2 linked regions of the Homo sapiens genome follow. The protein of the gene in region 1 interacts with the protein of each later gene in a pairwise test. Each region holds a gene or a part of one and is shown on either strand. Other genes may lie near its edges. The genes, in order: FCF1 and BCCIP.

Region 1 (16,349 bases):
CCTTTCTCTTCCTCTTACCTTGAAAAGGCCTGTTTGATCTTTACATGGTTCCTGGTCTCTTCTATTTCCACTTTATAGTCCAACAAGGAAGGATAGTTTGCTTCCCATTGGCTTTCTCTTCTGCCTATGAATCCTGAGGCTGTTACTTTCCCTTTCCTTGTAGTGGTTTTCCTGAGCCTGCTTCCCTACTTCAGTTGCAAGCCTTTGCTCACTTCACTGCTACATGGCTCTGAAATTGGTCCTCTTAAAGAACACATTGCCTTGTTTCATGATCTCAGTATTAAAATATATATATATATTGAGACAAAGTTTCACTCTGTGGCCCGGGCTGGAGTACAGTGGGGTGATCTCTGCTCACTGCAACCTCTGCCTCCCAGGTTCAAGTGATTCTCCTGCCTCAGCCTCCCGAGTAGCTGGGATTATAGGTGCATGCTGCCACTCCCAGCTAATTTTTGTGTAAAGTAGAGACGGGGTTTCTCTATGTTGGCCAGGTTGGTATCGAACTCCTGACCTCAAGCATTCCGCCCACTTTGGCCTCCCAAAGTGCTGGGATTATAGGCATGAGCCACCACGCCTGGCCAGTATTAATATACTTCTAAAAAATTCTAGCATAAAAAAATGGAAGTTGAAGCCTGGGCAACATAACGAGACCCCATGTCTACACATAATTTAAAAATTAGCCAGGGGGCCAGGTGCGGTGGTTCACACCTGTAATCCTAGTGCTTTTCAGGAGTTCGAGATCAGCCCGGCCAACATGGTGAAACCCCATCTCTACTAAAAATACAAAAATTAGCCAGGCGCAGCACCATGTGCCTGTAATCCCAGTTACCTGTGAGGCTGAGGGAAGAGAATCTCTGGAACCTGGGAGGCAGAGGCTACAGTGAGCCGAGATCGTGCCACTGCACTCCAGCCTGGGTGAGAGAGCGAGACTCTGTCTCAAAAAAAAAAAAAAAAAAAAAAAGCATGCATCGTGGCATGCACCTGTGGTCCTAGCTACAGATGCTCAGGTGGGAGGATCACTTGAGCCTGGGAGGCTGAGGCTACAGTGAATTGTGATTATGCCACTACACTCCAGCCCAGGCAACAGAGCAAGACCCTGTCTTTAAAAAAAAAAAAAAGAAGAAGAAGAAGAAAAGAAAGTTGGGCTGGGCGAGATCTTCACCCCGTAGTCCCAGCAGTTTGGGAGGCCGAGGTGGGAGGAGTTCTGGGCTTGAGCTCAGGAGTTCAAGACCAGCCTGGGCAACATGGTGTGACCGCATCTCTACAAAAAAAATTTTTTTTAAATCAAGCTGGGCATGGTGGCTCATGCCTGTAATCCCAACGCTTTGGGAGGCCAAGGTGGGTGGATTGCTTGAGCCCAGGAGTTTGAGACCAGCCTGGCCAACATGGCAAAACCCTATCTCTACCAAAAGAAACCACAAAAATTAGCTGAGCATGGTGGAGCATGTCTATGGTCCCAGCTGCTTGGGAGGCTGAGGTGGGAGGATCACTTAAGCCTGGGAGGTCGAGGCTGCACTGAGCTATGTCCATGTCACTGCCCTCCAGCCTGGGTGACGGAACAAGAACCTGTCTCAAAAGGGGGAAAAAAAGGAAGTTGCTTATAATGCATTTCCTCAAAGGAGCAATTATAAAAATTCATAAATCTGTGTGAGATGGAGGGTTACTTTTATTTATTAATGAAAATGGCCTGTAATCCCAGCACTTTGGGAGGCCGAAGCACGCGGACTACCTGAGGTCTGGAGTTCAAGACCAGCATGGCCAACATGGCAAAACTCTGTCTCTACTAAAAATCCAAAAAAAATTAGCCGGGCGTGGTGGCAGGTCCCTATAATTCCAGCTACTCGGGAGGCTGATGCAGGAAAATCGCTTGAACCCCAGAGGCAGAAATTGCAGTGAGCCAAGATCGTGCCATTGCAAGAGCGAAACTCCGTCTCAAAAAAATAAAAAAAGAAAATGGATCCTGTATTATTTTTTGCTTTATAAAACAGATTTACTGAAATATAATTGACTCCCTTTACAACTATACAATTCATCCCTTTAAAGTGTACAGTTCAGTGACTTCTAGTGGATTCACAGAGTTGTGCATCATCCATCACCATAGTCAATTTTAGAACTTCCATTATCCCAGGAAGAAACCTGGAGACCCTTAGCCATCACCCTGCAACCCTCACCATTCTCTCTATTTCTAGGCAACCACTAATCTACTTTCTGTTTCTATAAATTTCCCTATTCTGGACATTTCATAAAAATAGAATCTTATAATATTTGGTCCTTTTTCATTTAACGTACTGTTTTCAAGGATCATTTATATTACAGTTTGTATCAGTACTTCATTTCTTTTTATTACTAAATAATATTCCACTGTATGGATAGATCACATTTTAATCATTTCTACTTGCTTTTTACATTGAACTATATATTTTGAACATTTTTCCATGGCATGTATATATAAATGGGCCTCATTCTTTTATTTTGAGTCAAGGTCTTGCTATGTCATCCAAGCTGGAATGCAGTGGTCTGAGCCAATAGCTTACAGCAGCCTCAACCTCCAGGTCTCAAGTGATCCTGCAGCCACAGCCTCCCAAGTAGCTGAGACTACTGGAAAGAGCCACCATGCCTGGCTATTTTATTTATTTATGTTTTGTAGAAACAAGGTATCAATCATGTTGCCCAAGTTTTTGGGGTTTGTTTTTTTTTTTTTTTTTGAGACAGGCTGTCACTCTGTCACCCAGGCTGGAGTGCAGTGGTGTAATCTCAGCTCACTACAGCCTCTGCCTCCCGGGTTCAAGCAATTCTCATGCCTCAGCCTCCCAGTAGCCGGGATTGCAGGTGTGTTCCACCACACCCACCTAATTTTTTTTTTTTTTTTTTGAGACAGAGCCTCACTCTGTTACCCGGGTTGGAGTGCAGTGGTGCAATATCGGCTCACTGCAACCTCTGCCTCCAGGCTTCAAGTGATTCTCCTGCCTCAGCCTCCTGAGTATCTGGGACTACAGGCATGTGCCACCACGCCCAGCTAATTTTTTTGTATTTTTAGTAGAGATGAGGTTTCACCATGTTGACCAGACTGGTCTTGAACTCCTGACCTCAGGTGACCTGCCTGCCTTGGCCTCCCAAAGTGCTGAGATTACGGGCATGAGCCACCACACCCAGCCCTAATTTTTATATTTTTAGTAGAGATGGGGTTTTGCCATGTTGGCCAGGAATTCTTTTTTAAAGTTATGTATGGCCGGGCACGGTGGCTCACGCCTATAATCCCATCATTTTGGGAGTTCGAGGCAGGTGGATTGCTTCAGGTCAGGAGTTCGAAACCAGCCTGACCAACATGGTGAAACCTTGTCTTTACTAAAACTACAAAAATTAGCTGGGCGTGGTGGAGGGCGCCTGTAATCCCAGCTACTTGGGAGGCTGAGGCAGGAGAATCGCTTGAACCTGGGAGGCAGAGATTACGCCACTGCACTCCAGCCTGGGCAACAAAGTGAGACTTCAAAAAAAAATAAAGAATGAATAAAGTTACATACTATAATTGCTTCTCAGCCTTTTGGCTAAGATCAGGTGTAAAGTTACATACTATTCTATTGTTTAAATACATAATTTTTTAAACCCAGTATCTTATTAGGTATTTTGGTTATTTCCAGGTTCTACCCAATTAACAAGTCTGTAGTAAATATCCTTATGAATATGTCTCCCTAAGAGTGTATTTCTTTAGGATACATTGTCTGGAAGCTGTATTATGTATCAAGGGATTTGTGTATTTTTAATAGGTATTGCAAATTTGCCCTCAAATAGTTGTACCAATGTATATACCTACAAACTTAGTATGAGAATACTTGTTTCCTCAATATTGGGTATTTTCTTTTTTTTTTTTTTTTTTGAGATGGAGTTTCACTCTTGTCACTCAGGCTAGAGTGCAATGGCACGATCTTGGCTCATTGCAACCTCCATCTGCTGGGTTGAACTGATCCTCCTGCCTCAGCCTCCCAAGTAACTGGGATTACAGGTGCCCAACACCATGCCCAGCTATTTTTTTTATTTTTAGTAGAGACGGGTTTCACCATGTTGGCCAGGCTGGTCTCGAACTCCTGACCTCAGGTGATCCGCCTGCCTCAGCCTCCCAAAGTGCTGGGATTATAGGCGTGAGCCACTACGCCCGGCCAATATTGGATATTTTCATCTGTTTAATCTTTGCCACTCTTCTAGGTGCCACTCTTCCCAGTCTTTGGCCCAATAGACTCCGTTCAAATGTTGGCTTTACCATTTGCTATCTATTTAGTTAACTTCTTTGTGTCTCAGGTTCCTCACCTATAAAATAGGGATGATGATTTTTTTTTAAACTATTATATGGCTTTCTGTTTGATAGTTGTCAAACAGAAGTTTTTAAAATTTTTATGTGATCAGATTTACATTATCTGGCTAATTTCATGGTTTCTTGTGGTTCACATTTAAATTTTATTTCATCTGAGCCAGGCACAGTGGCTCACACCTGTAATCCCAGCACTTTGGGAGCCCAAGACAGGAGGAATGATTGATCCCAGGAGTTCAAGACAGCCTGGGCAACATGGCAAAGCCCCATCTCTACAAAAAAAAAATGTTTTTTTTTAATTAGCTGGGCATAGTGGTGCGTACCTGTGGTCCTCGCTACTCGGGAGGCTGAGGTGGGAGAATCATTAGAACCCAGGAGGATAACTAGAACCCAGGAGTTTGAGGCTGCAGTGAGTTGAGATCGTGCCACTGCGCTCCAGCCTGGGCAACAGAGCAAGACTCTGTCTCAAAAAAATAATAAAAATAAATAATTTTTTTCCCATCAGGAACTTACATTAATATAAAAATAATGACAGAGTTCAGCTTAGTTTTTTTTCCCCAGATATGTTTATAACAGGGAATCTGCAGTTTGGGGTTGGGACAATCTTAGTTTCTTAGGGTTTTCTTCTACTCTAGTTCTTCTTGTATATTTCAGTGTGCTAATTCTGCTGTCATTGCAAAAGTGTCCTGGGTCTTTTTAAAACTCTGAGCAGGGATATAATTCAGAGATAATTTCGTTACAAGTTCTGTTCTTAATGTGAATTTTTTTCCCTGGCAGGTATCCCATGTATAACCGATTGTGTAATGGCTGAAATTGAGAAATTGGGGCAGAAGTATCGAGTGGCTCTAAGGTAGGAAGGAGGTAAACTAGATCTGTTCTAGATTGGTATACTGAAGATTCATCTGTTTGTTGTTTAAAGATTTCTTGGCCAGTTAGTTGTGAAAATCATACAAAACTATTTATCATTTTTGGGGGGGTTGTTTTGGTCTTTCTCTCACACAAAAATCAGTTCCAGTTAGAGTGTCTAAACTTTTAATAGAAAATACAGAGAATATCTTGTCCGGGCTCGGTGGCCTGTAATCCCAGCACTTTGGGAGGCCGAGGCAGGCAGATCACCTGAGGTCAGGAGTCCGAGACCAGCCTGACCAACATGGAGAAACCCTATCTCTTCTAAAAATACAAAATTAGCCGGCTGTGGTGGCAGGTGCCTGTAATCCCAGCTACTTGGGAGGCTTAAGCAGGAGAATCGCTTGAACCTAGGAGGCGGAGGTTGCAGTGAGCCTACATCACGCCATTGCACTCCAGCCTGGGCAACAAGAGCAAAACTCTGTCTCAAAAAAAAAAAAAAAGAGAAAATACAGAGAATATCTTAATGAAATTGAATATTTGTGTATAGCAAAAGATATCATTAACAAAGTAAACAGACATACATAATCAACAAAGGGCTTATTTTCAAAATGCATAAAGAACTTCACATCTGTAAGAAAAACATAATTCTTAAATTCACAGTGAGTTGTCATTTAGTGCCCATTAGATTGGCAAAAATTTTTTAATGAGCTTGACAATGCCAAGAATAGTTAAGACCATGAAGCAATGGGAATTCTCATACTGAACTACTAAGGGTATAAATTGGTCATCACTTTGGAGGGCAACTTGACAATATCTGGTAAAATCCAGGTTGTTCATACTCTTACAACACAGTCTTTTAACCTGGAGATCACATTCTACAGGTAATTAAATTGGTTTAAAGGATCACAATGCCTGGTGGGTTTGGGGGGTTTTTTGTGTTTTGTTTTGTTCTGTTTTTGAAGCAAGGTGTTGCTCTGTCACCCAGGCTGGAGTGCAGTGGCACAATCAGGGCTCACTGCAGCCTCGACCTCCTGGGCTTAAGCAGTCCTCCTGCCTCAGCACCCTCAAGTAGCTGGGACTACAGGCATGCAACACCTCACATGGCCAGTTTTTTAAAATTTCAGTAGAGATGAGGTCTCACCATGTTGCCCAGGCTAGTCTTGAACTCCTGGGCTCAAGTGATCCTCCCACCTTGGCCTCTCAAAGTGCTGGGATTATAGGCATGAGCCACCACACCCAACCCCCGAGTATATTTTTTAGTGTAACAGAAGAAACTATAGGCTGGGCACGGTGGCTCATGCCTGTAATCCCAACACCTTGGGAGGCTGAGGCAAGTGGATTGTTTCAGCCTAGGATTTCCAGTCCAGCCTGGGCATCATGGTGAAACCCTGTCTCCACAAAAAGTAAAAAAATTAACCAGGTGTGGTGGCATACACCTGTAGTCTCAGCTATTCGGGAGGCTGAGGTGGGAAGATTGCTTGAGCCCAGGAGGCAGAGGTAGCAGTGAGCTGAGATGGTGCCACTGCACTTTAGCCTGGGTGATAGAGTGAGACTCTGTCTCAAAAAAAAAAGAAAGAAATTATAAAATATTAGCATGAATATGTAGAAAAAATTGGGTACTGCTTCACAAAACTTTTTTCGCTGTTATATGTGTGTATATGTATATGTGGTATATGTGTGCATACTGTACGCTAGATAAAATCTATCTCGTGCTATGGGTTCTGGTAAAAAAAAAAAGAAAGAAAAAGATTGCTATAGAGAAGTTCAGCTACTATTGGAGTCAAGTATTGGCATCTTCTTATGTACGTAATAGCAAAAAATTGCAGACAGCCAGAAGAAATGGCTTTTCTTAAGCCATAAAGGATGGCCAGGCATGGTGGCTCATGCCTGTAATCCCAGAACTTTGGGAGGCCGAGGCAGGCAGATCATTTGAGGTCAGGAGTGATCCTCAACATGGTGAAACCCTGTCTCTACTAAAATATGAAAATTAGCCAGGCATGGTGGCGGGTGCCCATATTCCCAGCTACTCTGGAGGCTGAGGCAGGAGAATCATTTGAGCCCAGGAGGCGGAGGTTTCAGTGAGCTGAGGTCATGCCACTGTACTCCAGCCTGGGCTACAAAGCAAGACCCTGTCTCCAAAAAAAAAAAAAAAAAAAAAAAAAAAAACTGGGTACAGAAGCTCACGTATAATTCCCAACACTTCGTGAGGCCAAGTGGGGAGGATCGCTGGAGCCCAGGAGTTTGAGACCAGCCTGGCCAACATAATGAGACCCTGGCTCTACAAAACTTTAAAAATTTGCCGGGCGGCCAGCCAGGCGCAGTGGCTCACGCCTGTAATCCCAGCACTTTGGGAGGCCGAGGCGGGTGGATCACGAGGTCAGGAGATCGAGACCATCCTGGCTAACACGGTGAAACCCTGTCTCTACTAAAAATACAAAAAAATTAGCCAAGCGTGGTAGTGGGCGCCTGGTAGTCCCAGCTGCTGGGGAGGCTGAGGCAGGAGAATAGCATGAACCCGGGAGGCGGAGCTTGCAGTGAGCCGAGATCGCGCCACTGCACTCCAGCCTGGGTGACAGAGCGAGACTCCATCTCAAAAAAAAAAAAAAGAAAATTAGCCAGGCATGGTGGCTTGTGCCTCTACGGAGTTCAAGGTTGCAGTGAGCTATGATCACACCACTCCACTCCAGCCCCAAAAACAAAGTGAGACCTTGTCTCTTTAAAAAAGAAAGAAAAGAATAGATAAGCTGTGGAATGCTCATGAATAAAATACTATACAAGAGTGAAGATGAGTGAACTAGAGTTATGCGCCAATGTGGATAAATCTCAAAAACAATATAAACTATAAAAAAAAAACAACAGCAGTCAGGCACTGTGGCTCACTCCTGTAATCCCAGCAGTATTGGGAGCCCGAAGCAGGAGGATTCCTTGAGCCCAGGAGTTTGAGACCAGCCTGGGCAACATAGTGAGACCCAATGTCTATGAAACATTTTAAAATTAGCCAGGCATGGTGGCATGTACTTGTATTCCCAGCTACTTGGGAGGCTGAGGTAGGAGGATTGCTTGAGCCAGGGAGGTTCGAGATCATACCACTGCATTCTAGCCTGGGAGACAGCGAGACCCTGTCTCAAAAAAAAAGAAAAAGAACAATGCTGAGCACTGTTAACGCACATCTGTAGTTCCAGTTACTTGGGAGGCTGAGGCAGAAGGATCACCTGAGCCTAGGAGTTTCAAGCCAGCCTGGACAACAAGACCCCCATCTCTTTTTTTTTTTTTTTATTATACTTTAAGTTTTAGGGTACATGTGCACAATGTGCAGGTTAGTTACATATGTATACATGTGCCATGCTGGTGCGCTGCACCCACTAACTCGTCATCTAGCATTAGGTATATCTCGCAATGCTATCCCTCCCTCCTCCCCCCACCCCACAACAGGCCCCAGAGTGTGATGTTCCCCTTCCTGTGTCCATGTGTTCTCATTGTTCAGTTCCCACCTATGAGTGAGAATATGCGGTGTTTGGTTTTTTGTTCTTGTGATAGTTTACTGAGAATGATGATTTCCAATTTCATCCATGTCCCTACAAAGGACGTGAACTCATCATTTTTTATGGCTGCATAGTATTCCATGGTGTATATGTGCCACATTTTCTTAATCCAGTCTATCATTGTTGGACATTTGGGTTGGTTCCAAGTCTTTACTATTGTGAATAATGCCACAATAAACATACATGTGCATGTGCCTTTATAGCAGCATGATTTATAGTCCTTTGGGTATATATCCAGTAATGGGATGGCTGGGTCAAATGGTATTTCTAGTTCTAGATCCCTGAGGAATCACCACACTGACTTCCACAATGGTTGAACTAGTTTACAGTCCTGCCAACAGTGTAAAAGTGTTCCTATTTCTCCACATCCTCTCCAGCACCTGTTGTTTCCTGACTTTTTAATGATTGCCATTCTAACTGGTGTGAGATGGTATCTCATTGTGGTTTTGATTTGCATTTCTCTGATGGCCAGTGATGGTGAGCATTTTTTCATGTGTTTTTTGGCTGCATAAATGTCTTCTTTTGAGTAGTGTCTGTTCATGTCCTTCGCCCACTTTTTGATGGGGTTGTTTGTTTTTTTCTTGTAAATTTGTTTGAGTTCATTGTAGATTCTGAATATTAGCCCTTTGTCAGATGAGTAGGTTGCGAAAATTTTCTCCCATTTTGTAGGTTGCCTGTTCACTCTGATGGTAGTTTCTTTTGCTGTGCAGAAGCTCTTGAGTTTAATTAGATCCCATTTGTCAATTTTGGCTTTTGTTGCCATTGCTTTTGGTGTTTTAGACATGAAGTCCTTGCCCATGCCTATGTCCTGAATGGTAAAGCCTAGGTTTTCTTTTAGGGTTTTTATGGTTTTAGGTCTAACGTTTAAGTCTTTAATCCATCTTGAATTGATTTTTGTATAAAGTGTAAGAAAGGGATCCAGTTTCAGCTTTCTACATATGGCTAGCCAGTTTTCCCAGCACCATTTATTAAATAGGGAATCCTTTCCCCATTGCTTTTCTCAGGTTTGTCAAAGATCAGATAGTTGTAGATATGCGGCGTTATTTCTGAGGGCTCTGTTCCGTTTCATTGATCTATATTTCTGTTTTGGTACCAGTACCATGCTGTTTTGGTTACTGTAGCCTTGTAGTATAGTTTGAAGTCAGGTAGTGTGATGCCTCCAGCTTTGTTCTTTTGGCTTAGGATTGACTTGGCGATGTGGGCTCTTTTTTGGCTCCATATGAACTTTAAAGTAGTTTTTTCCAATTATGTGAAGAAAGTCATTGGTAGCTTGATGGGGATGGTATTGAATCTATAAATTACCTTGGGCAGTATGGCCATTTTCACGATATTGATTCTTCCTATCCATGAGCATGGAATGTTCTTCCATTTGTTTGTGTCCTCTTTTATTTCATTGAGCAGTGGTTTGTAATTCTCCTTGAAGAGGTCCTTCACATCCCTTGTAAGTTGGATTCCTAGGTATTTTATTCTCTTTGAAGCAATTGTGAATGGGAGTTCACTCATGATTTGGCTCTCTGTTTGTCTGTTGTTGGTGTATAAGAATGCTTGTGATTTTTTACATTGATTTTGTATCCTGAGACTTTGCTGAAGTTGCTTATCAGCTTAAGGAGATTTTGGGCTGAGACAATGGGGTTTTCTAGATATACAATCATGTCGTCTGCAAACGGACAATTTGACTTCCTCTTTTCCTAATTGAATACCCTTTATTTCCTTCTCCTGCCTAATTGCCCTGGCCAGAACTTCCAACACTATGTTGAATAGGAGTGGTGAGAGAGGGCATCCCTGTCTTGTGCCAGTTTTCAAAGGGAATGCTGCCAGTTTTTGCCCATTCAGTATGATATTGGCTATGGGTTTGTCATAGATAGCTCTTATTATTTTGAAATACGTCCCATCAATACCTAATTTATTGAGAGTTTTTAGCATGAAGCGATGTTGACTTTTGCCAAAGGCCTTTTCTGCATCTATTGAGATAATCATGTGGTTTTTGTCTTTGGTTCTGTTTATATGCTGGATTACATTTATTGATTTGCATATATTGAACCAGCCTTGCATCCCAGGGATGAAGCCCACTTGATCATGGTGGATAAGCTTTTTGATGTGCTGCTGGATTTGATTTTCCCGTATTTTATTGAGGATTTTTGCATCAGTGTTCATCAAGGATATTGGTCTAAAATTCTCTTTTTTGGTTGTGTCTCTGCCCGGCTTTGGTATCAGGATGATGCTGGCCTCATAAAATGAGTTAGGGAGTATTCCCTCTTTTTCTGTTGATTGGAATAGTTTCAGAAGGAATGGTACCAGTTCCTCCTTGTACCTGTGGTAGAATTCGGCTGTGAATCCATCTGGTCCTGGACTCTTTTTGGTTGGTAAGCTATTGATTATTGCCACAATTTCAGCTCCTGTTATTGGTCTATTCAGAGATTCAACTTCTTCCTGGTTTAGTCTTGGGAGAGTGTATGTGTCGAGGAATTTATCCATTTCTTCTAGATTTTCTAGTTTATTTGCGTAGAGGTGTTTGTAGTATTCTCTGATGGTAGTTTGTATTTCTGTGGGATCGGTGATGATATCCCCTTTATCATTTTTTATTGCGTCTATTTGATTCTTCTGTCTTTTTTTCTTTATTAGTCTTGGTAGCGGTTTATCAGTTTTGTTGATCGTTTCAAAAAACCAGCTCCTGGATTCATTAATTTTTTGAAGGGTTTTTTGTGTCTCTATTTCCTTCAGTCCTGCTCTGATTTTAGTTATTTCTTGACTTCTGCTAGCTTTTGAATGCGTTTGCTCTTGTTTTTCTAGTTCTTTTAATTGTGATGTTAGGGTGTCAATTTTCGATCTTTCCTGCTTTCTCTTGTGGGCATTTAGTGCTATAAATTTCCCTCTACACACTGCTTTGAATGCGTCCCAGAGATTCTGGTATGTTGTGTCTTTGTTCTCGTTGGTTTCAAAGAACATATTTATTTCTGCCTTCATTTCGTTATGTACCCAGTAGTCATTCAGGAGCAGGTTGTTCAGTTTCCATGTAGTTGTGCGGTTTTGAGTGAGATTCTTAATCCTGAGTTCTAGTTTGATTGCACTGTGGTCTGAGAGACAGTTTGTTATAATTTCTGTTCTTTTATATTTGCTGAGGAGAGCTTTACTTCCAAGTATGTGGTCAATTTTGGAATAGGTGTGGTGTGGTGCTGAAAAAAATGTATATTCTGTTGATTTGGGGTGGAGAGTTCTGTAGATGTCTATGAAAAAGCAAGAACATATGTGGAGTATACCATTTATCTAAAGTCTAAAAACATGCAAACCAATACTGCATTGTTTATAGATATGTGTATATGCTTTTTTTTTTTTTTTTTTTTTTTAAAGACAGATTCTCACTCTGTCGCCCAGGCTGGAGTGCAGTGATGCTATCACAGCTCACTGCAGCCTTGACCTCTCCGGCTCAAGTGATCCTCCTGCTTTGGCCTCCCAAGTAGCTGGGACTACAGGTGCATACCACTATGCATGTCTGATTATTTTTTTTCTTTTGCATGGCTAATTTTAAAAAAAAATTTTTTTGGTAGAGACTGGGCATGGTGGTTCACGTCTGTAATCCTGGCACTTAGGAAGGCTGTGGCGGGCAGATCACCTGAGGCTAGGAGTTCAAGACCAGTCTGACCAATGTGGTGAAACCTCATCTCTGCTAAAAATACAAAAATTAGCTGGGGGTGGTGGCAGGCACCTATAATCCCAGCTACTAGGGATGCTGAGGCAGGAGAATTGCTTGAGGCTGGGAGGCAGAGGCTGCAATGAGCCAAGATCATGCCACTGCATCCAGCCTAGGCAACAGAGCAAGACTCCATCTCAAAAAGGCTGGGTGCAGTGGCTAACGCCTGTAATCCTAGCACTTTGGGAGGCTGAGGTAGGCAGATCATCTGAGGTCGGGAGTTCTAGACCAGCCTGGCTAACATGGTGAAACCCCGTCTCTCCTAAAAATACAAAATTAGCTGGGCATGGTGGCGCATGCCTGTAATCCCAGCTACTCAGGAGGCTGAAGCAGGAGAATCGCTTGAACCCGGGAGCAGAGGTTGCAGTGAGCTGGGATTGTGCCAATGCACTCCAGTCTGGGTGACAGAATGAGACCCCATCTCCAAAAAAAAAAAAAATTTAGTAGAGATAGGGTCTCACTATGTTGCCCAGCTGGTCTCAAACTCCTGGCCTCAAGTGATCTTCCTGCTTTGGCCTCCTAAAGTGCTGGGATTGTAGTCATGATCCTCCACACCCAGCCTGGTAATTTTTAAAACAATAAAAATAAAGAATGAGAGGGGAAAAAATAGAGGCACCAAGTGGAAACACTAAGTTTGGCTGTCAAGAGATGCAGAAATGGGGTGTTAGCTGGAGGGGGGTATAGGTAAAAAGATTTTTTTGTCTTAAGGCAGAGAATATATGACAGCATGTTAGTATGTTTCTAGGAAAGAGCTAGTAGAGAGGAGACAAGTGATTTCAGGAGTAAAGAGATAACTGAAAGAGCATAGTCCTAGACTGTTGCCCACCTAGTTTGTCAGCAACCAGTCCATCCTCCCTCTAGTGTATCCTCCCCAGCACAGCCTGCTTAGTTTTTCCAAGACAGAGCTTTGTTCTTATCACTTTGTCCCCCAGAAATCTTTAATGACTCCTCATTACCTGTGTCATCACACTCGTCAGCCTGGCATTGGAGACTCTTTCTAGCCCCATTTCATTCTTCTCTCCACAAACACTCTGCCCCCAGCCAGAAAGATGTGTTTACTCTTCCCCAAATACCAAGAAACCATTTTACAGTTGGCTGGTGTCCTATTTGGTACCCTCACATTGCTTGGCACATTCTTTAATCTTATTTCACCCCATGTCATTTTTTTCTAAATATTCCCAACCCACATTGACCTAGCGCTGAACTACTGCAATATGGAGGAGTATTTGTGTTGCACTTGGTACATATGTGCTGTCTTGTATTTTTCTTCATTTCAGTGACTCATCATCACTGTTAATAGAAAGAGCATGGCTCTCAGAATCACACAGAGTTGGGGTTTTTCTTTTTCAAATATGTATGAAAATAATACATGTTTGAGTGTTTTATGGCAAACAATACAAGCATATACATATAGTAAAAGGTAAAAGTCTGCCTCTACATTCATACTTTGTCCATTCTCATACCCCAAGAGTGACAACTGACAAAGGTTAATATATTTTTTCAGACCTTTTTCTGTGCAAATGCAAATCTAAATAAAGAGTATTGGAAAGAAGGATTTGTATTTTATTAATTAAATCATATTATATATATATATATGCATATGCCCTGCTTTGTTTATTCAACAGTTTAGTGTAGGTCCTTCCACATTGGTACGTACAGCTCTACCTCACTTTTTATTAATAGGATAAGGGCACCAAAATGGGTTTAACTTTTACCTTTCTAAAGGATATTTTTATTTTCTTCACTTACTATAAACTGTGTTGAGTGATCATCCTTCTGCCTATATTCTTGTTCATTGTGTTTAAGACAACTTCTTAAAAGTGAAATGGTTAGGTTAAAATGGGTTTTGTTTTTGAATCCTGGCTTTTCCCAGCTGTATAGCTTTGAATGAAGTAATTTAATCTCTCTAAGCCTACTTCCTCATCTGTAGAATAGATATATAATAACTCAAAGTTTTGTAATGATTAAATGACCCAAAGCACACTAGCTGTCAGCCTTCATTCCCTGCCCCGTGAATTGTCTTTCCAGTTAGAGGATAAAGTTCAGGAGGAGAACAGTGCCTTAAAATCTCTGCATAGATCATGTTACTTTTATTGCATTAATTAAGACTCAGAAAGTTATCCAGCTGATTGAATGTTTTCTTTAATCCACCTACAGGATTGCCAAGGATCCAAGATTTGAACGATTACCATGTACACACAAAGGAACCTATGCAGATGACTGCTTAGTACAGAGAGTAACTCAGGTATTATCAGTTCATAACTGTTTACTTTGTGCTTAAAAAAAAAAAATGTAAACTATTATCTCCTGAATGTTCATGGTCAGTAAAACATCTAGGAATATACATTATGGTTAAATTAAAAAAAAATTGCATAGCATTCCTTCATAAGAAGCATAGGTGTCTTCATTTACTTGAGAAAGTGGATTGAAAATGTACACTCTAACCATAATGGAAAGAGCACAGGCTTGGGGAGGAGACATGGGTTTCACGTCTCAGCACCTGCATTTACTGGCTGTGTGATTTGGGACATTTAACTGATTCTTTATCTCACAAATCTCTGTAAAATGATTTTAAGTGAGTTAATGTAGAACCCATTTATTTTTGATGTAGGAATTTTGTTCCTCTTCACGATGCCTAATCCAAAAGTGCTTCTTAGTTAAATCTGAGAGTCTCCCAAGATGCTGTTTCACACATACCCTAGAATAAGTAGGTTTTTAATTCCTTCATTAAGCACCACAAGGACTTCTGCTACTGAGTGCTTTTATAAGGGCCTCTCTGCTGATGATAATCTTCATCTGCTCTGCTGACCACAGAGCCATCCTTTTAGCCACTTCACCCCATGGGGCGGGTGGGTGGGGCCAGTATTTCCCACAGCACAGCTGACACCACTCTGCCACTTTTTATAAAACTCAGTAGGAGAGTCAGACGTGACAGATGTGAAGCTTCCTATAAAATAGCTTTCACCTGACAGCTAAATATTACTGCTTTTATAACTGCTAGGCTCTAGTTTCAGGCCCTGAATATCCTACTTAGGCTTCCTGTTTCGGGGATAGCTTACCTCTAACATCAGTAGGCCCAGAGCACACCCAAGCCCCAAGATCTAGGGAAAGGAGGGAGCTATGGCCTCCAAATTAAGGCACTTTTTATCTCCATGGAGTTCCTCGGAGCATTTTCCCAAAACTAAAGAATTGTCTGCCCCAAGTGTGAAAGTCCCTTTCATTTATGAGCAGAAAACAGTTTGCAGCTTGTGAAAAGTTTTCTACCTTCTCCTCCTCAAGATTCTAAATGCTGCATTCAGCCCAGGCAACTTGTTTATTTTATATAACAAGATTAGGAGCTCCTAGATCATAGTAGGTACTCAACAAATTGTTATAGCCTGCCCTTCGCTACTTACTGTGAAAATGAACGATTCTCAGACTGGTCAGTCGTTGTGCCATTATCCAGTATTCACTAAGCGTGCTCAGTGACCTCAGTGTGAACATCACTCCATGTCTCTTACAGCATAAGTGTTACATTGTGGCCACAGTTGACCGGGACCTGAAAAGAAGAATCCGTAAGATTCCTGGAGTTCCTATCATGTACATTTCTAACCATAGGTGAGAAATTTCCCTTGGAGAAGGGAATAGAAATATATAATTGATATCAATTGAAAATGAGGATAAGTGATAAGGTTATAAAGGATTTGAAAGAAATTATTGTATCAAATGTTTACATAGTTATATTTGAAGAAATGAGACAAAGCAAGAGCAAGAGCAAAAGAGAGAGATAGGATTTAAGGAATGAGGCAAACATTTAAATTGTTAGAGTAAGATTACTGGAAGAAATAGACGTATTGTTTTAAATAAAAGCAGTAATTTAAATCAAGCTAATCTTTTTGGCCAGAAATACCTGTTTTGAAAGATTTTTTTTTATTAACACTTCATCTGAGAAATGGAAAGCTTATTTAAAAAAAAAAAAAGCTGTTAT
Region 2 (10,913 bases), on another chromosome or scaffold:
TGGGACTACAGGCACGTGCCACCACGCCCGGCTAATTTTTTGTATTTTTTAGTAGAGACGGGGTTTCACCATGTTAGCCAGGATGGTCTCGATCTCCTGACCTCGTGATCCACCCGCCTTGACCTCCCAAAGTGCTGGGATTACAGGCGTGAGCCACCGTGCCTGGCTCAAGATGTTTTTGTGTTTTTTGTTTGTTTGTTTGTTTTTGAGACGGAGTTTCTTCCTTGTTGCTCAGGCTGGAGTGCAGTGGCGCGATCTCGGCTCACTGCAGCCTCTGCCTCCCAGGTTCAAGCAATTTTCCTGCCTTAGCCTTCCGAGTAGCTGGGATTACAGGCATCTGCCACCATGCCCGGCTAATTTTTTTTTTTTTGTATTTTTAGTAGAGATGGGGTTTCTCCCTGTTGGCCAGGCTGGTCTTGAATTTCTGGCCTCAGGTGATCTGCCCGCCTCAGCTTCCCAAGGTGCTGGGATTACAGGTGTGCACCACCGCACCTGGCCCACTTCAAGATTTTTCAGAGGAAGAGAGGGTAAGAATATTCTCTGGTATATGGCTGTCCATCACAGTACAAGCTACCTTTATAGGAAAAAAATGCTGGAGATATCCCACCAGCAGGATGACATCCACGACTAAGGACACAGAGCAGCAGGGGTGCCCCAGCTTCCACACTGACCAGCTGTGTGATCGCAGGTAATTTCCCTCATTTCCCTATGCCTTAAAGTCCACATCTGTAAACCCCAGGCTAATGTCTACCTCTCCGCATGGTTTTAGAATGAAAGATTTCACAGGAAGCATATTATAAATGCCTAATCATTCTTAACAGGTTAATCACTTTTCTCCTCCTCCTCCTCATGCTCATAACCACAGTGCAGGCAAGGAGGCTGGTGCCTAGCCTCCTGAGTACCTACTATGCACCTGGCACTATGTTAGCTGCTAGGTCCTGTGGGGAAACAGAAAAACAGAGTAGCCACACTTGAAAGACTTGGACCTAAAGTGGGAGAACAATAAATCTTGATAAATCATTTTCAAGAAAATCCTTATTTACATCTAAACAAATAAGCAGGATAGTCTTACCTCATAGAAAAATTCTTCCTCTGCATTTGCAAACATTAACGCAGCTTTCTTTTTGTTGCTAGGTTTCTTTTTGGAATTGTTTTTTCCTGCTTCCACAAATGTCTTACTAATCAGAAGGTAAAAGTAGCACTTCCCACATGGCTTATTGGTTCTGTGTGCCCCCGCCAGTTCTTTCCTGCAAGGCACACACACAACATTTGTTTACCTGCTGGGTCAAGTGAAATCCATCAACAAACCAGAGCACAGAAAACCCGGTGAGGCATCTTCAGTGGGTTCTGCTGTGACGCAGGCATTCAATCTGAACACTTAGTCTACAGGAATGATTTTTATTTACATAATCAGTTGCATTTTAGATTATGTATTACTTTTTATAATACTATGATATATCTCTCAGATTATGCTGATTTGTGGATATATAGCAACTAACAGATCAGATGAGTCTCAAATTCACTCAATGTATCACTGCTCTGCCTGTGCATAAGTTAAAAATATATACGAATCTGAATTTTTGAATTTTTTAAAGCAATGAACATTTAACTGAAACACACAAAGGTATACAGCCACAACCAATGTCACTACAGCCTGTGACTACTACCACAGTCTCTAATTGCTAGAGTCTGGAACTAATTTCTGACATACTGCAGAAACTGCATAAACACACAACCTAAATTCTAGCAATGGAATCGCAACAAAGCCTTAATGTTTCTTCTTTCTGAAAATTAAACATAGCCTTGTGCATCTGGATGCCCTTGAACAAAAGAAGAAACTCAGAACAACCGTCCTCTTCAGCTTTCCTTTTTTTTTTTTTTCTTTTTTTCGTTTGGAGACAAAATCTCACTCTGTTGCCCAGGCTGTAGAGTACAATGGCACAATCTCGGCTCACTGCAACCTCTGCCTGCCAGGTTCACACGATTTTCGTGCCTAAGCCTCCTGAGTAGCTGGGATTACAGGTCTGCACCACCATACCCGGCTAATTTTTTGTGGGTGTATTTTTAGTAGAATTGGGGTTTCGCCATGTTGGCCAGGCTGGTCTCAAACTCCTAGCCTCAAGTGATCTGCCAGCTTCGGCCTCCCAAAGTGTTGGAATTACAAGTGTCAGCCACCACACCTGGCCTTTTCAAAAAAAAAAAAAGAAAAAAAAAAAGATAGGGTCTTGTAATTTTGCCCAGGCTGGCGTGCAGTGGCTATTCACAGGCACAATCATAGTATATTGCAGCCTGGAACTCCTGGCCTCAAGCATTCCCCCTGCCTCAGCCTCCTGAGTAGCTGCGACTACAGGCGTGCACCACTGCGCTTGGCTCACTTCAGCTTTAACAGGACTAGGAGAAAGCAAATCACCCTCCTATAAAACCAAATAAATGTGAGCTCCAGCTGATCAGAAAAAAAGAAAACCAAAAAAAAACAAAAACCACTTAAGGCACCAGAAGCACAATCTGAGCTACAGCTGAGAGAGCAGGGAGCAGGAGATAAGAAGCATCGAATCCCTAGGAAAAAACAGCAAACGTAAAGGTTTCCAGAGTAGAGTTGCATTCCTACAGCTATTTAAAGGAAAACCACAACGCAAGGGCTATGACCTCTGAGAAAGAATATTCTATAAAGAACCTGTCTAGGTCAAGTGCTGTGACTGACACCTGTAATCCCAACACTGGGAGGCCGAGGCAGGAAGATCACTTTAGCCTAGGAGTTCAAGACCAGCCTGGGCAATGTAGCAAGACCCTGTCTCTACCAAAAAAAAAAAAAAATTTAAATTAGATAGAAATAAATAAGAGAATCTGCCTATATTTTGTCCTCTGTTGCAAAGCACAGACAATACAATTCTTAGTACACTCAGTTTGCTAGATTTCACAGCTACATTTGAAATATTTTTGTAAACTTAAAACTTCTGGATTAAAAAATAGAATAACAAAAACCCTGAAAAGCTAGCCACAGTATCAGGACTATGGTTTCATTTGTTATGAAACATACCAATAGAATTTGGGAACTTTACCAGTTTTGTTATTGTTGTAATTGTTCATTATTTTATTCATGTTGCAGAAAGCTATCTGTGAAGGTGAAAAACTTCAATCAAATGGGGATGCAAAGTCTATATGAAATTATCTACTTATATATCACTTAAATCTTAAGTTAAAATTTCATGATTATTGTCACAAACTCTTCAAAAAGCCAGTTGTTAATAATGTATGTACTTCACAGGATGTTTCTTCCACTCCCCTCACACTAAACCCACTTAAACCAAGGACAGAACTCTTTCTATATCTACATATTCTACTTAAATGACATTTAGGAATCTATTTGAAAAAAAAATTACTGTTCAAAGATATTTTCCCAGAATCTCTTACTGAAGCTGCTGGTACATGGGCAGAGCGATCTGTGGAGGGACATTAATGAATCTTTCACTTAGGAGAAGGCCCACAGGCTTGGTGGTGTCATTTAAAAACTTGTCCAGCTGTTCAACCATGCTCTTTTCACAGTTCTTCTCACAGAAGCGTAGAACCAACTCTTGAATTTGTTCAACACACTGGGTACCCTAGAAAGCAAAGAGAAAGCTTGTTTCCTATTACAAGCCATCACATAGAGGACAAAACCTGAGAGTAAAAGCTATCACTTTTCATCTTACAGCTAAGGGCAGTTTCCTGCCATAGCCTTAACGTCTTGTATGTCTTCAGTGTTGACTGCTTAAGCATTTCTCAAAAGTAAATACACTGGTTATTTACCATCCCATGATGAGTGGTAAGAGAGTCATAATTAACATTCAGACACACTGGAATGGCAACTCTAGTCCATCTCATAAAGATAGATGGAAGTAACTGGACAGTTTATTTCAAAATTAAAGACTAAGTGTAGCCTGCATCTTATTCTGAGGTGGGTAAGCAGCTGGTTTACTTTTTATTACAACTCATCAGAGAATCAATAAAAAGAGATGAATCGAAACAAAATAAAATGTCAGTAAATGCCCTCAACATTGAGGCAGCAAAGCCTGAGAATATCCCCACTACACAAGTAGCAAAGATAACAGCTGCAGAGAGACAGCACAAACAGCTCCTGCATCAGTACCAACATCAGGACTGCAAAGCCAGATGATTCCCTAAACCACAGGGAGTAAACAACTTTAACTGGGTACAGACCCAACACCACCACCTTCATATTGAAAAAGGATTACAATAAGATTTCACAAGAGCACTTATCCCTATAGTTAATATCACTGTTTAACATAAAAGACATTTTCACCATGCATTAAATAAAAGTGGTTTTGGCCTAAGAAATAACCATTCAGATGCCATCCAGTGAAACCAACCTTTCTTTCAGTTAAATTTAAAAGGCTTATGAAACCAAAAACCTCATCTTCATCCATATCATCATTGCTGTCTTCTGAAACATCCGTTTGCTATTTTAAAAGAAAAAATATTTAAATGTTATATTTAGTATAATACCAAGAGTATAAAACCAAGTCTTGGGATGTAGGCCTCATTTATCTTTTCACTTTTCAAAAGCAAAACTTTGTTTTACCACCGCCATCTTAGAAAGCATTGTATTTTAAATACTGTCACAGTTTTACCACCATCATCTTGGAAAGCATTGTATCTTAAATACTGTGTGACCTTGTTCATTTCGCTTTACCTCGACTCTGTTCCTCTTTTCAGATTCTGAACAGATTGAAATTTCTTTGTACCAGATTAAGTCATTTTCTTTTATCAGATTCTCAATATAATACAAATCCAGAAGAGATAAACCTCATGAAATAAAGCATTTTCATTTGTTTTCTACACAATTAGGCTGGAGCCAAGCCTTGCTTCTCTGCTGGCCCACAGCATTGTTTCATCTAAAACTCATGAGTTTCCAGAACACTTGTCAGTCTTGACCATTAGTGAAGCTAGGCAATGCTTGAGGGCCACTTACACCTATCACATTAGCAAGAGAGAAGGGGAAAAAAGAGAACCCCCTGCCCTTTGTTCTATGATCCTAGGGACTGGCTCCACCGAACACTATGGGTAGTCCCTTTACTAAGAACAAGAAGTCTCTATCCTCAGGACACCTCAAGTGTCTCTGGAGAATCCCAAGAAGCCACAGTTACAACTGCAGAGCTATTGATGTGATTATCCATTTAAAGAGTGAATCCTGCCATTAGATAATAACCTCTTTCAAGGATAAAAATAACTGCTTCTCCTCCATATCCATTAGGTCTTCTAAGACACGAATCAGCTAGAGATCACATTTATTTGATGAAAGGGCAGGTGGTCTGCTTTTTCCCATTGCCCTAATAAAAGGAATGCCCCATAGGTTTAATTTCTCATTTTCTTTACATTGAGTGCCATAAAGTTACTAATATTGTCAGAAGCCTTGAAAAGTGTACACTGTATTTAGTAACAAGTATGTTGGTGACCCTATCACTCAGTGTCCGAATTTTAGTGGTGTAAAAGTCAGATAAGAGTGTCTGAAGAATGAATAGGAGGACAGGAAGTAGAAACCATGACTTAAGATTACTTTTCAAGAATTTTGGCTCTGAAGGTGATGTACTTAAGAGTGGAACATTAGACTGAATGGAGCTTTTGTTTGTTGTGTTTTTCACAACAGGCTAGGGAACAGGTGCTAGGAACAGGAAAAAGACATCAACAGTGACAGCTACACATATGTAGCACATGTCAGCTGCCAGACACTGTTTTAAGCAGTCAGCAATTCATTTTGTTTACCCATGCACTCTACAAGATCGGTGCTAGTACCATCCTCATTTTCAGAGACAGAAATGGAAACAGATTAAGGTACTGTGGCAGACTGTATCTTTCACAGATGGCCCCAATGGATCTCTCCTTGGACATGCTCTTCTGACAAAGTGACCTAGGTACTTTTCTCATGGAGTGGTGGGATCAATGTGCCCTCCCCCTAGATAGAAATTTCTATCTGTAAAGACTAAGCAAATGGTGGAAATGGCACTATATCACTTCTGCCTGCTTCTTTTGGGCAGCTTGCTCTTGGAAGCAAACCAATGTGTGACGAGGCCCACATGGAGAAGAACTAAGGCCCCTGGTCCAGAGTCCCAGCTAAGCTCCCGACAGACAGCTAGGGCTAACTTGCCAGTCATGTGAGTGAGCCATCTTGAAAGGGAATCCTCCAGCCCCTAGTCAAGCCACCCCAGCTAACATGATGGAGCAGGAGCACAGATGAGTTGTGCCCACTGAGCTCTGTCCAAACTGTAGATCCATTAGCCAAATAAATGACTACTGCTATTTTACGACACTAAGCTATGGGGTGGTTTGTTATACAAACAACAGATAACCCAAAGAACCACCAGATGATAAGCAGCAGACCCAGGGTCTAAACCAGTCCTTATTTTGTTGAGCTCTCTACAACATCTATCTGATAAAGATGACCATCCCCTCCTCCTTCAAATGTTATCTTTCTTGCTGTGTATGACATCACTGCACTATTGTTTCTTCTACTTCTCCTGTCATCCCTTTTAATCTCCTTTGCTGGCTCTGCCACTTATATTACTCATCGAAGTATTCTTGGTATTACTAAGGTGTCTGTCCCTTCCCTCCCTGCGCAATCTCAATCACTTCTACGACCTCAGTAACATTTACGACCAACTCCCAAGTCTCCAGGGCTCCACCTGCTACCCGGTATCTCACAGGTAACTCAAACTCAAAATGTACAAATCCAAATTCACATTCCCCCTCCTAATTTGACCTTCCTCCATGTTTGTTATCCTGTTTGCTCAAGCTAGAAACCTGGAAGTCATCCTTGACTCCTTTTCCTCTCACTTTCAGACCCAATCAGGGACTAAACCTCATCATATTTCATCTCCCAAATATTTTCTAAATGAGCCCACTTCTCTCCCTCTCCATTGCCCCCACCTGGACTACTGCATTTAATAAGCTTGGATTTCTGCAATGACTTCTGATCAGTCTCCATTCCTCCAGTAATACTGCTTCCAATTTGAGCTAAACAGAATAAAGAACTTTTTTTTTTTTTTTTTTTTTTTTTCAGATATAGGGTCTTGCTGTGTTGCCCGGCTAGAGTGCAGCGGCACAAAGCTCACCATGGCCTTCAACTTCTTGGCTCAAGAGATCCTCCTACCTCAGCCACCTGGGTAAAAAGACTACAGGCATGTGCTACTATGCCCGGCTAATTTTTTGTTATTTTTTGTAGAGACAGAGTATTGCTATATTGCCCAGGATGGTCTTGAACTCCTGGCCTCAAGCAATCCTCCCACCTTTGCTTCCCAAAGTGCTGGGATTACAAGCATGGTGAGGCCCAGCATGAACAGAATAAAGAACTCATTTAATCAGAATAAACACAATTATCCTACTTACCTTAATCACACTCCCAATATGGTTCTGTTGAATTAAGAGATCTGTTAGTTCTGCAGTGTTCACAGGAGCCTTTAGAAAAAGCTAAAAGGAGGAAAAAATTATTTTAAATTAAGATCAAAGCATGATTTCTAATAACTTCAAATCCTATATTCAAATACAAACAATGAAATTTCTGTGACTTAAGATGATGATCTAGAAAAGCAACCCCAAGAGGGAAAGAAAAGCCCAGGAGAGTCAAAGAAGCTAAAGATTAGGAAATTTCAGAAAAGAAGAAGTCAGTAGTAATATAGAAGTAATGGGGGAGGGGGAGAAAAAAGGGAGAAACGAGAGAGGATAAACTTAAGGCCAAAGAATTTGGTGAAAAAGACGGTAGAGCTATAAAGGCTAAAGAACCAAAGTCATATTATATGAGTAAAAGAATAAGGAGAAGCAGCAAGCATCAATTTTATAGCACCAAACAGCACAGTTATATGACTGTTACATAAGAATTGTGAATTAAAAAAAAAAACAAAATAACTCTAATTAGCAGATGAAAGGAAATAATTCTTCCTTCCAGGCAAGGTGGAGAGGATAGAAATGGAAATTCTAAAAAGATGAACTTGGGAGAGCCTGTATTGAATGACCTGAATTTTCTTTTTTTTTAGAGACAGAGGCTCACTCTGTTGCCCAGACTGGAGCTCAATGGCACATTCATAGCTGCAGCCTTGAGCTCTTAGACTCAAGTAATCCTCCAGCCTCAGCCTCCTGAGGAGTTAGGACTAACGGTGTGTGCTACCACAGTTGGCTAATTTTTAATTTTTTTGTAGAGACAGGTTCTCATTATGTTGCCCAGGCTGGTCTCAAACTCCTGGGCTCAAGCAATCCTCTCACCTCGGCCTTCCAAAATGCTGAGATTATAGGCATGAACCACTGCACCCGGCCCCTGATTTTTCTTAGAAGAGGAAATTTATGCATAATAAATAAAAGACAATACCTGCTGCAGTAATTTCTTAATTCCGTCATAATCATTATCTGATAGGGAATAAGCTTCAAATTCAATATTCACTTCCTGTAAATAACACACAAAATAGTTGTTACCAGAAAAACTACAAACATCTAGACTTTAAAACAGGCAAACATTGCCAAGATTGCCATCTGTGAAGAATACAAAGCACCTTCACACTATTTCTTCAGGTGACACAAAAGCCTGAGAAAACAAAACACTCAGAGTAACCTAGTTTAAATGTTGAGAAAGTCCAGTTCAAATAAACCAGACACGGCAGCCACAAAGGATAAATTATTTTCCTGATTACAAGGGTGGGCAAAAATCAAAATCACTTCAAAAGTCCCTGGAATTGCCTAGAGCTTGACTTAGCCCATGGATTTGAGGTTACACTACATTTGCTTAGCAAATATTTATTAAGTATCAATCCAGGTACCAAGCACTGTGCCAGGCACTCAAGATGAAAAGGTTAGTAAGGCAGACACAAATGATCCTGCTCTCGTGCAGCTTACGATTTAGGAAGGAATATAGGCATTAAGGAAATATTCATAGAAATAAATGTAAGTGCTATAAAACAAAGGTACACAATGTTGTAACAACTTAAAAAATAAGAAGTCAGTCAGGAAAGCCTTCCTTGAAGTGACATTTGAGCAAGAAACCGAGAAACAGCAAAGAGAGTTCCTGGTACAGGGAACAGCACAAACTAAGGCCCTAAGGCAGAAGGAAATACAATGAGTACAAGGGACTAGAAGAATGAATGTGTAGCTGGGCTCCCTGATCTCTATCTGCAAGACAACAGAATCTAGAAGATGGAACTAAAATGCCAAAAACAAAACCTAGTTGCTTTTAAACACTAACAAGATTAGTCCTTGAGGACCCTAAATCAGACCTTGATAAGTGACACAATGAACCTGGGGCTCTGATGAAATAATATATTTAAAGGCACTTCAGGTTTTAACGGTTTCAGAATTTAGGTCTTAGCTGAAGAACATCGCAGAGGAAATCAGACCTCCTTTTACCTTGCCACCCTGACTATGTATATATTTAAGTCTTCCTTAATTGTAAAATTGCAAGGCCCTGGAATTGCTTAGAGCAATTCCAGCTCCAATTTGAACTCTTTAAGTCCAGCTTTGCAGACTTCAAATGCTAACTTAGCCAGATTATGTGAGCAGCAAAACACAAGGGGTCGGGTGGGAGTGTTCCAAACAGGATCAAACTAAACCAAATAACAAACTGTCATTATTCAGGACTTAAACTTATTCCTTAGATATAAATACATTCTGTAAATAATGCTCATCTAGTGTTTTTTTCTTTGTCTAGACAGACATCTCGGACCTCTGTCCCAGACTATTATGGCACCACCAGGGAAATGGGCGGCAAATGGATTATCTGTCCAGCACCCTTTTCCTGGGTATGGGCTCATCTCCACATGGCTTCAGCAGGAACAGTCACGTTTGTAGAAAAGAGCCCTGTCCCTCATTCCCAGGTGATTTAGAATTAAGACTGTGGTGGTGTGATAGATTTCCCATGTTAACACAAGCAGCATTGATTTCTATAACCCAAAAGTAATAAAAGAGCCAGTCAAAGTTCTAAGTGAAAAATGGTGAGATGGCATTCAAGGCATAGAGCCAAAGTAAAATTTGTAAGGGAAGGAAGATTGATCACATACCCACACCATGGTGTCACCTCTAATCCTGCATCCATGCTTCTCTCCATGCTCCCCTCCATGCTCATCATGACTCATGATTACCTCTCTGATTTTATTTCCTATCACTCTCTCTTCCTTATTCTGATCCAGCCATCTAGGCTGCCTTTCCGTCCCTCAATTGTGAAGACTCTTGATTTTCTTGTAAATGAACTAGAAAGCCAATGCAGCAATCTAAGCAGAGGCCTGAGATCAGACCTATAAGATCTCTCTGACTGTAAGTGGAGTATAGACTGATTGTAGGGGAACAAAAATGGAGAAAAGAACGCCGGTTAAAAGCTGTTACATTAAATAGTAGTCCAGGCAAGAGATGATAGAGGTGTGGACTACGATGGTCTCAGAATTAGTGCTGAGAAATGTCTGGATAACAGGATTTACTGATGGGCTGGATATAGGATGAGGAAAGGGAGGAATTAAAGTTAAGCCCCAGGTTTTGGGTTAGAGCAGCTGGTGACTTTAGGGGCCATTTATAGAAATGGTGACGATTAAGAGAGGGGCATGAATTATTATACAAATTCTGCTTTGGACAAGTTAAGGCTGAGGTATCTATTTAAACATTCAGTAGGCTGAAGGATCATTCAGTCCTAATTGTTTACTAAACAAATAATAAGTACCTATATTGCCAGGCACTACGGTAGGACCTAGTCTGAAGAAAGGAACACAGTTCTATGAGACTATGAAACCAAAGATTTACCCACGACTTGGTCAGCTGCCCCAGGAGCCAGAAAATACAGCCTAGCTGAGATCTGAAGAAGGAAGGGAAAACTGCAGGATAAAGAAGAGCATTTGAAAAGGCTTCTACGGTAGAACGCGGCAAGAGCCTTCAAGAAACTGAGGGCCCAAGTG

What was found.
Region 2: the proteins of FCF1 (region 1) and BCCIP interact in binary tests that used the Homo sapiens proteins (3 or more experiments, as listed by UniProt).

What each region holds. Positions count from the first base shown.
Region 1 is NC_000014.9:74,718,192-74,734,540, forward strand, and holds part of FCF1 (rRNA-processing protein FCF1 homolog), read left to right. Parts: intron 1-5,080; coding exon 5,081-5,153; intron 5,154-14,539; coding exon 14,540-14,627; intron 14,628-15,884; coding exon 15,885-15,979; intron 15,980-16,349. UniProt on the Homo sapiens protein: Part of the small subunit (SSU) processome, first precursor of the small eukaryotic ribosomal subunit.
Region 2 is NC_000010.11:125,824,106-125,835,018, reverse strand, and holds part of BCCIP (BRCA2 and CDKN1A-interacting protein), read right to left. Parts: intron 8,429-10,913; coding exon 8,354-8,428; intron 7,462-8,353; coding exon 7,381-7,461; intron 4,458-7,380; coding exon 4,368-4,457; intron 3,600-4,367; coding exon 3,412-3,599; intron 1,248-3,411; coding exon 1,073-1,247; intron 1-1,072. UniProt on the Homo sapiens protein: During interphase, required for microtubule organizing and anchoring activities. During mitosis, required for the organization and stabilization of the spindle pole.